3 linked regions of the Homo sapiens genome follow. The protein of the gene in region 1 interacts with the protein of each later gene in a pairwise test. Each region holds a gene or a part of one and is shown in the gene's direction. Other genes may lie near its edges.

Region 1 (4,060 bases):
CCTTTTCAAGAACATGGATGGAACTGGAGGCCATTATTCTTAGCAAACTAAAATAAAAACAGAAAACCAAATACCACATGTTCTCACTTATAAGTGGGAGCTAAATGATGGGAACACATGGACACATATAGCGGAACAATGGATACTGGGGCCTTTTAGAAGGTGGAGGGTGGGAGGAAGGAGAGGGTCAGGAAAAATAACTAATAGGTGCTAGACTTAATACAAGGCTGATAAAATAATCTGTACAACAAACCCCCATGACACGAGTTTACCTATATAACAAACCTACACATATACTCCTGTACTTAAAATAAAGGTTAAAGAAAAAGAAGCCTCAAGGAATCTTGTAAAAACATTTGTGCTACCTCAAGACTTTAAGTCATGAAATTCACTGTGAACTGGATTAGGATCTTACGCGAGGGGCATAAGTAAAGCTTTTCAGAAATTCAAAGCTGACTCAGCCAGTGTAGTAGAAACAAAACAAACATAATATACAAAGCATTAAATTGAAAGTAATGGTTCCAAATAAGGAAAGATCCTAGCTACTTAAGATTTTCTCTGAGAAGTTCTTTTCTGGATTACTTTTAGTGCCTGAATGAAAGATCCTTTGATGTTTCTGTCATCCTCATTTTTCTCCTAATGTACCATCCTGAAAATCTATTTCAATAAATTTGAGAGGGCTTTAAAAATAAAAAAAAATGGAATGAAAAATATACCATTCAAAAGAGCAGCAACATTCAAAATATACCTAAAAAGAACATTCACAAAAACATACACACTCTATCAAAGCAAATATAAAAATGTGTTGATAGACTTAGGTGGATGCCTAAGTACAGCAATACAATATGTTTATATATGGTGAACATAATATTGTACAGATGTCAATTATCTTTATTTACAGATTTAGTGCCTTATTTGATGGCCTCAAGTCAGCAGAGAAGTGGCCCAGCACCTACAAAAAGTCAAGATAAGACACTGAGTGAGGACTGAGGGCATTACCTACCCAAGAAGAGGGACCCCCACAGAGCCCCGCCCCTACTGTCAATCTTGGGAGTCCCCAGGCGTGGCTGCTGGGCTCAGGTTCCACCTTACTTCCTACTCTGGACTCAGGGAAATGATCCTTTTTCTGAGGCTGACTGATTCAGCTTAGCAAAGAGAGAAGTCCCAGTGCCTGCAAAGTCAATGAAAGAAATATATGTATTTCTTTAAGAACTGCCCCTCCCCCGAACGCAGAACCATTTGCCGTTAAGCTGGGAGAGCAAAGTGGGCGTGGCCGGACATGTTTCTCTTGACCTATCTTCCACATCATCAAGCTGTTACGGGCGAAACCTTGGTCTGAAACATGCGGCCAGAGAAATAAATCTCAGGATCCGGCAGGTGTCAAAGTGAGTATCATTTGTTATGACCTTCAAGACACACTCTTCCCAGAACAGAGGCTGCCTCACAGAGACCCATCCTTCTCTGCTCTGTCCTGCTCCCACTTTCAACTCTCTGTGTCCCAAAGCGCAGCTGTTAGGCCTAACACCCTTACTTCCTGTTGGGAATCTGTGGGATGGGAAGCCATGGTCTAAAGCGAGGCAGCCTCAAGTCAACAGACGGAGGACTCAAAAGACTAAAGTAAAATTAATATCCTAAGTTAGAACTGATGTAGTCAGGAGTAAAATTAATATCCTGAGTTAGAACTGATGTGACAACCCCCCACAGAACAGTCCCACCCCGCTCCTGCCTTATGGGTTCCTAAAGCAATACCCTCAAGAGAACCAGGAGAGGTGGCCATTCTTAGACCAAGGTAGAATCTCCCTACCAAGGCTGTGAACACTATCTCATCCTCCGTCTTCTAGGGTGCCCTCTTCATCAATTCAACTGCCTGCACTATTGTCTGTAGTCCCTGACAAGAGTAATTATGCCTCGAGGTCAGAAGAGTAAGCTCCGTGCCCGTGAGAAACGCCACCAGGCTCGTTGTGAGAATCAGGATCTGGGAGCTACGCAGGCCACTGTGGCAGAAGGAGAGTCACCCTCCCCTGCCTATCTTCTCTTTGGTGACAGACCCCAGAATTTGCCTGCTGCTGAGACACCTAGCATCCCTGAAGCGCTTCAGGGAGCCCCATCCACCACCAATGCTATTGCACCTGTTTCATGCAGTTCAAATGAAGGTGCCAGCAGCCAAGATGAGAAAAGTCTAGGTTCCTCAAGGGAAGCTGAGGGCTGGAAAGAAGATCCTTTAAACAAGAAAGTAGTGTCGCTGGTGCATTTCTTGCTTCAGAAGTATGAAACGAAAGAGCCAATTACAAAGGGAGATATGATAAAGTTTGTTATCAGGAAGGATAAGTGTCACTTCAATGAGATCCTCAAGAGAGCCTCTGAGCACATGGAGCTGGCACTTGGTGTTGATTTGAAGGAAGTGGATCCCATCAGGCACTACTATGCCTTTTTCAGCAAATTAGACCTCACCTATGATGAAACAACCAGTGATGAAGAAAAAATTCCCAAGACTGGCCTCCTGATGATTGCACTGGGTGTGATCTTTCTGAATGGCAACCGTGCCCCAGAAGAGGCAGTCTGGGAAATTATGAATATGATGGGTGTATATGCCGATAGGAAGCACTTCCTCTATGGGGATCCCAGGAAGGTCATGACCAAAGATTTGGTGCAGCTAAAGTACCTGGAGTACCAGCAAGTGCCCAACAGTGATCCTCCACGCTATGAATTCCTGTGGGGTCCAAGAGCTCACGCTGAAACTAGCAAGATGAAAGTCCTGGAGTTTGTAGCCAAGATACATGATACCGTCCCTAGTGCCTTCCCATCCTGCTATGAAGAGGCTTTGAGGGATGAGGAACAGAGAACCCAAGCCAGAGCTGCAGCCAGGGCTCATACTGCTGCCATGGCAAATGCACGTTCCAGAACCACGTCTAGCAGCTTCTCCCATGCTAAGTGAAATCTGAGGCTTGTTCTTCACTTTTTGGTCGAAAAGGTCTGTCAACATTCTAATAGTGGAGGGCCATGGTGGGGCTGGAAGAAATAAGTGTATATCATCTTTGCATTCCTATTGTATATTGATAACTCGAGTTTTACTTTTCCATCTTTTTGTTTCCCCTAGGTTACATTTCAAATGTTCAAGTCTGAAGATTGTTTTCTTTGTGGAAGAGAAGAGCAGTCAACATTCTAAGTAGTGAATGGCCAGAGTGCGTCTGGAGGGAACACAGCATATATCATTTTGTGTTAATAGTCTATAGTAACTCGGAGTTGTATCTTTTTCTTTCTTTTTTTTTTGGTGTTATATTTCAAATGTTGTTGCTTATAATAGAAGTTTTAGATAACTTCAGAATCTATATTTATTAATGACTTTGGTTACACACGTATTGCTATTTAAGAGTAGGAGTTTTATTGTTCTGTAAAACAAATTGGGAAACCTTCTTTCATATTTAATGAGCCAGAACAAGGAAACACAGTATTGGAATAGGTATTTCCTTAAAAAATGTGAGATGATTTAGCAGTAAAATTTTGGAGATCAAAACATAGGTGAGAAAAAGTAAACTTTTCAGTTCTTGGTTTTCTTTTTCCATTTTAGTCTGTTATATAAAAATAAAAGTCATACCTGGATTGGCTTAGCTTACTGAAGAAGGTAGGAAGAAATAAAATGTTTATGAACCAGCATCTATGCTTACCGGCTCATTCATTCCTCCAATATTAATCCAACATCTGATTTTTGAAAGTAATTTTGTTAGAAATGGGAAAACCAGGATACAAAACACCCACCTCTGCTTAGACTTTTACAATTAATGAACAGTAATAATGTATGGAAGATGGTGAAATACTTCTAAGACCTAAAGGACAAGTAACAAGAGGGAGTAAGGAGGTAAGGAGTTAGAGAGGGGTTTGGGAAAAGTGCTGAAGTGTATCTGGCTGAAAATGGTAAGGTGCAAATTCTCTGAAGAAAGGCCCTTTTAGACTTTTGGAAACTTTGAGTCTCTCAGTGGGATATACTTTTAATTTAAGCTGGGTGGTGGGCTAGATGAAGCTTTGGGACTGGAGAGCAGAGGCCAGGCACTCAGATGGTGTG
Region 2 (3,500 bases), on another chromosome or scaffold:
CAGGCTTTGCTTCTGTCCTACAACATTAGCTTTTCCAAATTACTCCAAGCTCGCCTTGTTCATCCTCCAGGACTCCTTTTCTCTCCAGAGACTGAGGTTTAGAAAGTGAGAACCAGACAAGGAAGAAACTTCTTTAGAACCAGAGGTTCATTTGTATGGAGCTGTAGATGTGGAAGCCTCCAGATTATAGACTGAGCTGCCAGGTGGCTGGGGAGTGTGTGTGCAACTGGAACACTCCTCTGACGCATCGTGGGTTCCGTTCCCCGACTCACTTCTCATTGCCTGGAAAGCATAGGAAAATTTCAGTTCCTGCCCTTGATAGGCAGTCCAGCAAAACTTACATATGACTTTGCTGCCTGAAATTCTTTCTGGAACAGGGCAAGGTATAAATAAATAAATAACATATCACTTTTTGGAATTTAAAGTGCTGTGTCCTTTGATAGCAACAGCAAAGCAAGAGAGGTTGACTGGACAGCCACTCCACACCTCGATGGCCGTTCCCAGTTCCCCTCTGTTGACTGCAGACAGGGTCAGTACCTCCTTCATCAGGAAAATGGAGACATCCAGTGTGAGCTCCTCAGAGCCCCTCCACCACTGCACAGTGACATTTACCTCTTAGTCTCCTGTGTCACTGGATGAGGCGTCCTTGCTGCTGGGCTTACCCTTCCACCTCTGCCCTTGTTCCCTTTCCTTCCTGTCTCCTGTCAGACTGCCTCATCGTTTATTGCCTTTCCTGTTTTCTGTGATTACTCCTTTTTATAGGCTCCTCTCTCTCAGCCTGTAAATATATGTGAGCCCCTCACATCCTAACATGAGTCTCCCTTGATCCTATGTCTTCTAAGTGTTTGCTGATCTTCCTGAGGTTTCTGTTCGGCACTGTTGCTGCTTTCTCTGTGCAACTCTACTCCTTTGGCCTCCATGGTGCCATTACTTTCCAGGTTCTTCTCCTCCCTCCCTCACTACCCTTTCCTCTCTCTCTCTCCCTCTCTCCCTCTCTCTCTCTCCCCTTTGTGGGTTTCTTAGTCTTCTACCCCACTCTAATTGTAGGTGATTCCTAGGGATCTACTCTTTTTTTTTTTTGAGAGTCTCGCTCTTTCGCCCAGGCTGGAGTGCAGTGGCACTATATCGGCTCAGTGCAAGCTCCACCTCCCGGGTTCACGCCATTCTCCTGCCTCAGCCTCCCGAGTAGCTGGGACTGCAGGCGCCTGCCACCACGCCCGGCTAATTTTTTGTATTTTTAGTAGAGACCAGGTTTCAACGTGTTAGCCAGGATTTCAACGTGTTAGCCAGGATGGTCTCGATCTTCTGACCTCATGATCTGCCCACCTCGGCCTCCCAAAGTGCTGGGATTACAGGCATGAGCCACTGTGCCCGGCTGGGATCTACTCTTATCCTGCAGTTCTTTTCGTTCTCTCTACTTACAGGGCTTCAAACATTACCTGAATGCTGATGACTCCCAAACCTACCTCTGGTTTATTCCTTTCTTCTGAGCTTCAGATTCTCCAGCTTCAGCTACCTGAGGGACATCTCTGCCTATATGTCTCTTAGCTGCCTCAAGTTTAATGTGTTCAAATCCAAACCCATCATCTTCCTTAGCCCTCTTTGTCTGCTGTTTTCTCTTGAGTAATCAGTAGCACCATTATCTACTCAGTAATCTTAGCTGGAAACCTGGGAGTCATCTTTATGACTGCTGCCTCTCTTTCACTCACCACATCGAATTAGTCTATATCTTTGCCTTTTTTAATTTTTCTACACATTTCCTGACTCTCCCTTTGTCTCCATCAAGACTTTAAGTCCTTTAAGATCTTGTAGTCCAGCCAGACACAGAACATGCTCTAGTTAGTGCTCAGTAAGCGTTTAATGAATAGGAGGGAAGGATCACCTAATTCTTCTCTTTTTTAAAAAGGTGGGCCGGGCGCGGTGGTTCACGCCTGTAATCCCAGCACTTTGGGAGGCCGAGCCTGGCGGGTCACCAGGTCAGGAGATCGAGACCATCCTGGCTAACACGGTGAAACCCTGTCTCTACTAAAAATACAAAAAATTAGCTGGGCGTGGTGGCAGGCACCTGTAGTCCTAGCTACTCCGGAGGCTGAGGCAGGAAAATGGCATGAACCCGGGAGGCGGAGCTTGCAGTGCGCCGAGATAGCACCACTGCACTCCGTCCTGGGTGAAAGAGCGAGATTCCGTCTCAAAAAAAAAAAAAAGGTGGGCCGGGCACAGTGGCTCACGCCTGTAATCCTGTAATCCCAGCACTTTGGGAGGCTGAGGCGGGTGGATCACAAGGTCAGGAGTTCGAGATCAGCCTGACCAATATGGAGAAACCCTGTGTCTACTAAAAATACAAAATTAGCTGGGCATGGTGGTGCATGCCTGTAATCCCAGCTACTCAGGAGGCTGAGGCAGGAGGATCTCTTGAACCCAGGAGGCAGAAGTTGCGGTGATCTGAGATCACGCCATTGCACTCCAGTCTGGGCAAAAAGAGCAAAACTCCATCTCAAAAAAAAAAAAAAAAAAAAAGGTGGATGTCAGCTGGGCCCAGTGGCTCACACTTGTAGTCCCAGCACTTTAGGCGGCTGAGGTGGGTGAATCATAGGAGGTCAGGAGTTCAAGACCAGCCTGGCCAATGTGGTGAAACCCCATCTCTACTAAAATACAAATATTAGCCAGATGTGGTGGCAGGCGCCTGTAATCCCAGCTACTCGGGAGGCTGAGGCAGGAAAATCACTTCAACCCAGGAGCGGAGGTTGCAGTAAGCCAAGATCGTGCCATTGTACTCCAGCCTGGGTGACAGAGTGAGACTTCATCTCAAAAAAAAAAAAAAAAGTGGATGTCGCCGGGTGTGGTGGCTCACACCTGTAATCCCAGCATTTTGAGAGGATGAGGCAGACAGATCACTTGAGGTCAGGAGTTTGAGATCAGGCTGGCCAACATGGTGAAACCCCGTGTCTACTAAAAATACAAAAATTAGCCGGGCGTGGTGGCACACACCTGTAGTCCCAGCTACTTGGGAGGCTGAGGTGGAAGAATCACTTGAACCCGGAAGGCAGAGGTTGCAGTGAGGTGACATCGAACCACTGCACTCTAGCCTGGGTGACAGAGTGAGACTCCAGCTCAAAAAAAAAAAAAAAAAAAAAGATGGATGTCCATGAGTGGTTAGAATTAGAAGAAATCTTAAATAAGGACATGATGTTGCTGTGGCATGGGGAGGCCACGTCAGTCTAGGGTTGGAAGCTAACTAACTTTCCTCCTACCTAGAGAGGTATGGAGAGAGGCTAGATGCTAGATGGGGCATTCAGCCAGTGGGGTCCACATGGTTGGCTTTTTTTTTTTTTGATAAGAGAACTGAATGACAGGATATTTCTGAAACTTTTGTGACATTTCTTGAAGTGATTAGGAACTTGACAGGGTATTTCTCAACTGGAGATGCTGTATTAATTAAAACATTGACTTCAGGACTTCAGGTAATGGAAAGTAATTCAGATCTGCTTTGCTTTTTTTTT
Region 3 (3,500 bases), on another chromosome or scaffold:
AATCTCAACACTTGGGGAGGCTGAGGCGGGTGGATCACCTGAGGTCAGGAGTTCGAGACCAGCCTAGCCAACATGGTGAAACCCTGTCTCTACTAAAAATACAAAAAATTAGCCGGCCATTGTGGCAGGTGCCTGTAATCCCAGCTACCTGGGAAGCTGAGGCAGGAGAATGGCTTAAACCTGGGAGTCGGAGGTTGCAGTGAGCCGAGATCGTGCCATTGCACTCCAGCCTGGGCAACGAGTGAAACTCCATGAAAAAAAAAAATGAACTGGAATACAGACAGTTATTTTTCTGGAGGTGATACTGGATAATTAAAACCAAGGGTGTGAGATTGCAAAGGAGTTTTAAGAATATTTTAAAAGAAGAGAGCCAGGAACATAATCCTGATGAATATCTGTTTTTACTGAGTGTCAGGAAGATGAGCCAGATAAAGAGCTTTTAGAAAGGAGAAAAAATACTCATGGAAGCCAAATGAAAATACCTTTCAGTGAAGGGATGTTAATAAAAGCTAGTGTGCAGAAATATATGACTTTCTTTTTATTGAAAAGGCTTGCTTGGGTCATTTTTTGTTTGATTGATTGTTTGTTTGTTTTTGAGACAGAGTCTCACTCTGTTGCCCAGGCTGGAGTGCTCTACAATTTTTTGTAGAGACAGGTTTCACCATGTTGGCCAGGTTTGTCTCAAAACTCCTGAGCTCAAGTGATCCACCTGCCTCGGCCTCCCAAAGTGTGCTGGGATTATAGGCGTGAGCCACTGCACGTGGCCTGCTTGGGCTTTGATGTTTATTTTTTTCTGTGTATTTATTTAACACATATTTAGTGAACATTTGTCAGATTAACTTCATGTTCTTAACCATGTAAAGGAGTACTGTAAAAGGTATCAGGTAATCTAGTTGAACCAGATTTTAAGGTACATATAGTGGTAAGTAGAACTAGAGTCATGTTGGGTCCATTCTATGAAAGGACTTGCATGCTAGCCGGAGGAATTTATTCATACTAGGCATGGAGAGCTATTGTTTTATTTTAGAAGTGGTTAGATTCAAACCGTATTTCAGAAAGCTGACAGTTCTGAGAAAATTATCAGAAATGGAAGTTCTAATAAAAAAATTTTTTTTTGTACAGATAGGGTGTCACTATGCTCCCCTGGCTGATCTTGAACTTCTGGCCTCAAGCGATTCTCTCACCTCAGCCTCCTGAAGTGCTGGGATTACAGGCATAAGCCACTGCACCTGGCCAGAAATATGTATTTTTAATATAATGTTATATATGGCAGATTTGACAAAGTATTTGGTTTCTAGATTTTTCTTTGTCTTTTTTTTCAATTATAAACATAATAAAAGCTCTGTAGAAAGTTTCAGAAAAGTGGAGAAGTTTAAAGAAGAAAGCACAAGGCAGTAGGGCAGCTTTTAAACTTTTAGAATTAAATGTGTAATTCGAACTTGAGTATGATGTGACTCAGATTCTAACTCTGAAGGTGTGAATAAGGTAGGATTCTTTATCTTTATTTTCATTAATGGAATTTAGTGCATGTTTTATTGTTGATACCACGTAAAGCACGCTAGCTTATTTTACACATCAAATTTGCATATATTCATGGTACAAATGATTTCATTAATATTAACGTTTATGTTAACATGACTTGTCAATTTCTCTGAAGCATCATATTCTCGAAAAGATAAAGACCAAAGGAAGCAACAGGCAATGTGGCGAGTGCCCTCTGATTTAAAGATGCTAAAAAGACTCAAAACTCAAATGGCCGAAGTTCGATGTATGAAAACTGATGTAAAGAATACACTTTCAGAAATAAAAAGCAGCAGTGCTGCTTCTGGAGACATGCAGACAAGCCTTTTTTCTGCTGACCAGGCAGCTCTGGCTGCATGTGGAACTGAAAACTCTGGCAGATTGCAGGATTTGGGAATGGAACTCCTGGCAAAGTCATCAGTTGCCAATTGTTACATACGAAACTGTAAGTAATATGTTCCCAGTGTCATTTCTCCACACGTTATTTGGGAAACTAGATGACTGGTTTTTTCAAAAGAATAATATTTAAATACCACTCTTCCAGTGAGTTAAGACTACAAATTACATGTGACTTTTTTCTTCATCCAAAATTGATTCCGTATATTTTTACTATATAATAGAACTAACATTTCTTGATTGCTTACTCTGTATTTGGCAATAAACAAGACAAAATTCTTAACATCATAGATCTTGTATTCTAGTAGTGGGAATCAGACATTAAAAAGTGTAGACAAGTAAGTAAAGATCATTTCAGTGGGTAAAAGGTGCTGTGAAGGAAACAACCGAGGAGTGGGATGGGAGGAGCAGATGAGACATGTTCTATTGGGGTAGTCAGAGAAAGTCTCTGTGAGGAGGCAGCACTTGACCTGAGACCTGAAGTTTAGGAAGGTGGCAGCTATTTATAGATCTAGGGCAAGCAGTGTTCTGGGTAAACAGAACAGAAACTGCAAAGTCACTGACACAGGATTTATTTTGCGTATTTGAAGGATTGAAGGAAGACCAGTATGGCAAAGAAAGCAGAGAGAGGAGACTAGCAGGAGACGAAGTCAGAGAGAGGTAGGCAGAATTTAGATCAGGGAGAGTCTTGCAAAACCTCAAAAAGGAGTTCGAGTTTTATTATGATGTAAGGAGGAAGCCTCTAGAGAATAAAAATAAGGGGTGTTTATAATCTGATTTACACTTTACAAAGATGACTTTGCTTGTTGTGTGGAGAAGGGTCTGAAAAGGGTTGAGGACAGGAATTGTGAGACCAGTAACAGCCTATTACATTATCTTGTGTGAAATATGATGGCATTTTCTGGAGTTACAATAATGGATAGAGGGGCTTGTTCACAGTCTAGCAGCCTTTCTTGACTGAGGTTCCCATCTTTCTTAGTTCTCTTAAGGATGTGCTATTCTATTCTAGATGCATAGGAGGGAAGTTAATCCAGTCTTAGATCAGCAGGGCTGAGTTCTTTCTCAGAACCATAGTTGAAAAAGCCTAAATAGAATTTTAGGAAAGTTCTATTTAGAAAGAAACTAAGAATTATGATTAAGTTTTGGCCTAAGCAACTTAATAGGCAGTGGTATCATTTATTGAGAAGCAAATCAGATAAGAAGCAGGTTATGGGGCTTGGGAGGAGGTAAGGGCAGAAAGTTGGGTATTCTTTTTTAAACATGTTTAATTTGAGACACCTGCTAGATATCCTAGTAAAATGTCATAGACACGTGAATGGTACACAACTTTGAAACTCAGAGAGAGGTCAATGCTGGATATAAACAGTTGGGAGTCAATAGTATTTTATATTATTTAAATCCAGAAGACTGAATAGGGTCAAGTTTGGAGGGAGTTTCAATGGAGAAGCAAAATTTTTGACTCTGTGGCACTTAAACATTTAAAGATCTGATAAATAGGAGAGGCCAGCAAAGGAAATTGAAAGAGCAATCATTAAGGTAGGAGAAAAACTAGAAGGGATAATATCTCAAAAATCAAAAATAAT

What was found.
Region 2: the proteins of MAGEB18 (region 1) and GLE1 interact in binary tests that used the Homo sapiens proteins (3 or more experiments, as listed by UniProt).
Region 3: the proteins of MAGEB18 (region 1) and TRIM37 interact in a two-hybrid assay, tested with the Homo sapiens proteins (one large-scale study listed by BioGRID and IntAct).

The regions. Positions count from the first base shown.
Region 1 is NC_000023.11:26,137,083-26,141,142, forward strand, and holds MAGEB18 (melanoma-associated antigen B18), read left to right. Parts: upstream 1-1,260; 5' UTR 1,261-1,385; intron 1,386-1,841; 5' UTR 1,842-1,903; coding exon 1,904-2,935; 3' UTR 2,936-2,971; intron 2,972-3,097; 3' UTR 3,098-3,654; downstream 3,655-4,060. UniProt on the Homo sapiens protein: May enhance ubiquitin ligase activity of RING-type zinc finger-containing E3 ubiquitin-protein ligases. Proposed to act through recruitment and/or stabilization of the Ubl-conjugating enzyme (E2) at the E3:substrate complex.
Region 2 is NC_000009.12:128,528,719-128,532,218, forward strand, and holds part of GLE1 (mRNA export factor GLE1), read left to right. Parts: exon of another isoform or gene 1-282; intron 283-3,500. UniProt on the Homo sapiens protein: Required for the export of mRNAs containing poly(A) tails from the nucleus into the cytoplasm. May be involved in the terminal step of the mRNA transport through the nuclear pore complex (NPC).
Region 3 is NC_000017.11:59,026,881-59,030,380, reverse strand, and holds part of TRIM37 (E3 ubiquitin-protein ligase TRIM37), read left to right. Parts: intron 1-1,657; coding exon 1,658-1,966; intron 1,967-3,500. UniProt on the Homo sapiens protein: E3 ubiquitin-protein ligase required to prevent centriole reduplication. Probably acts by ubiquitinating positive regulators of centriole reduplication.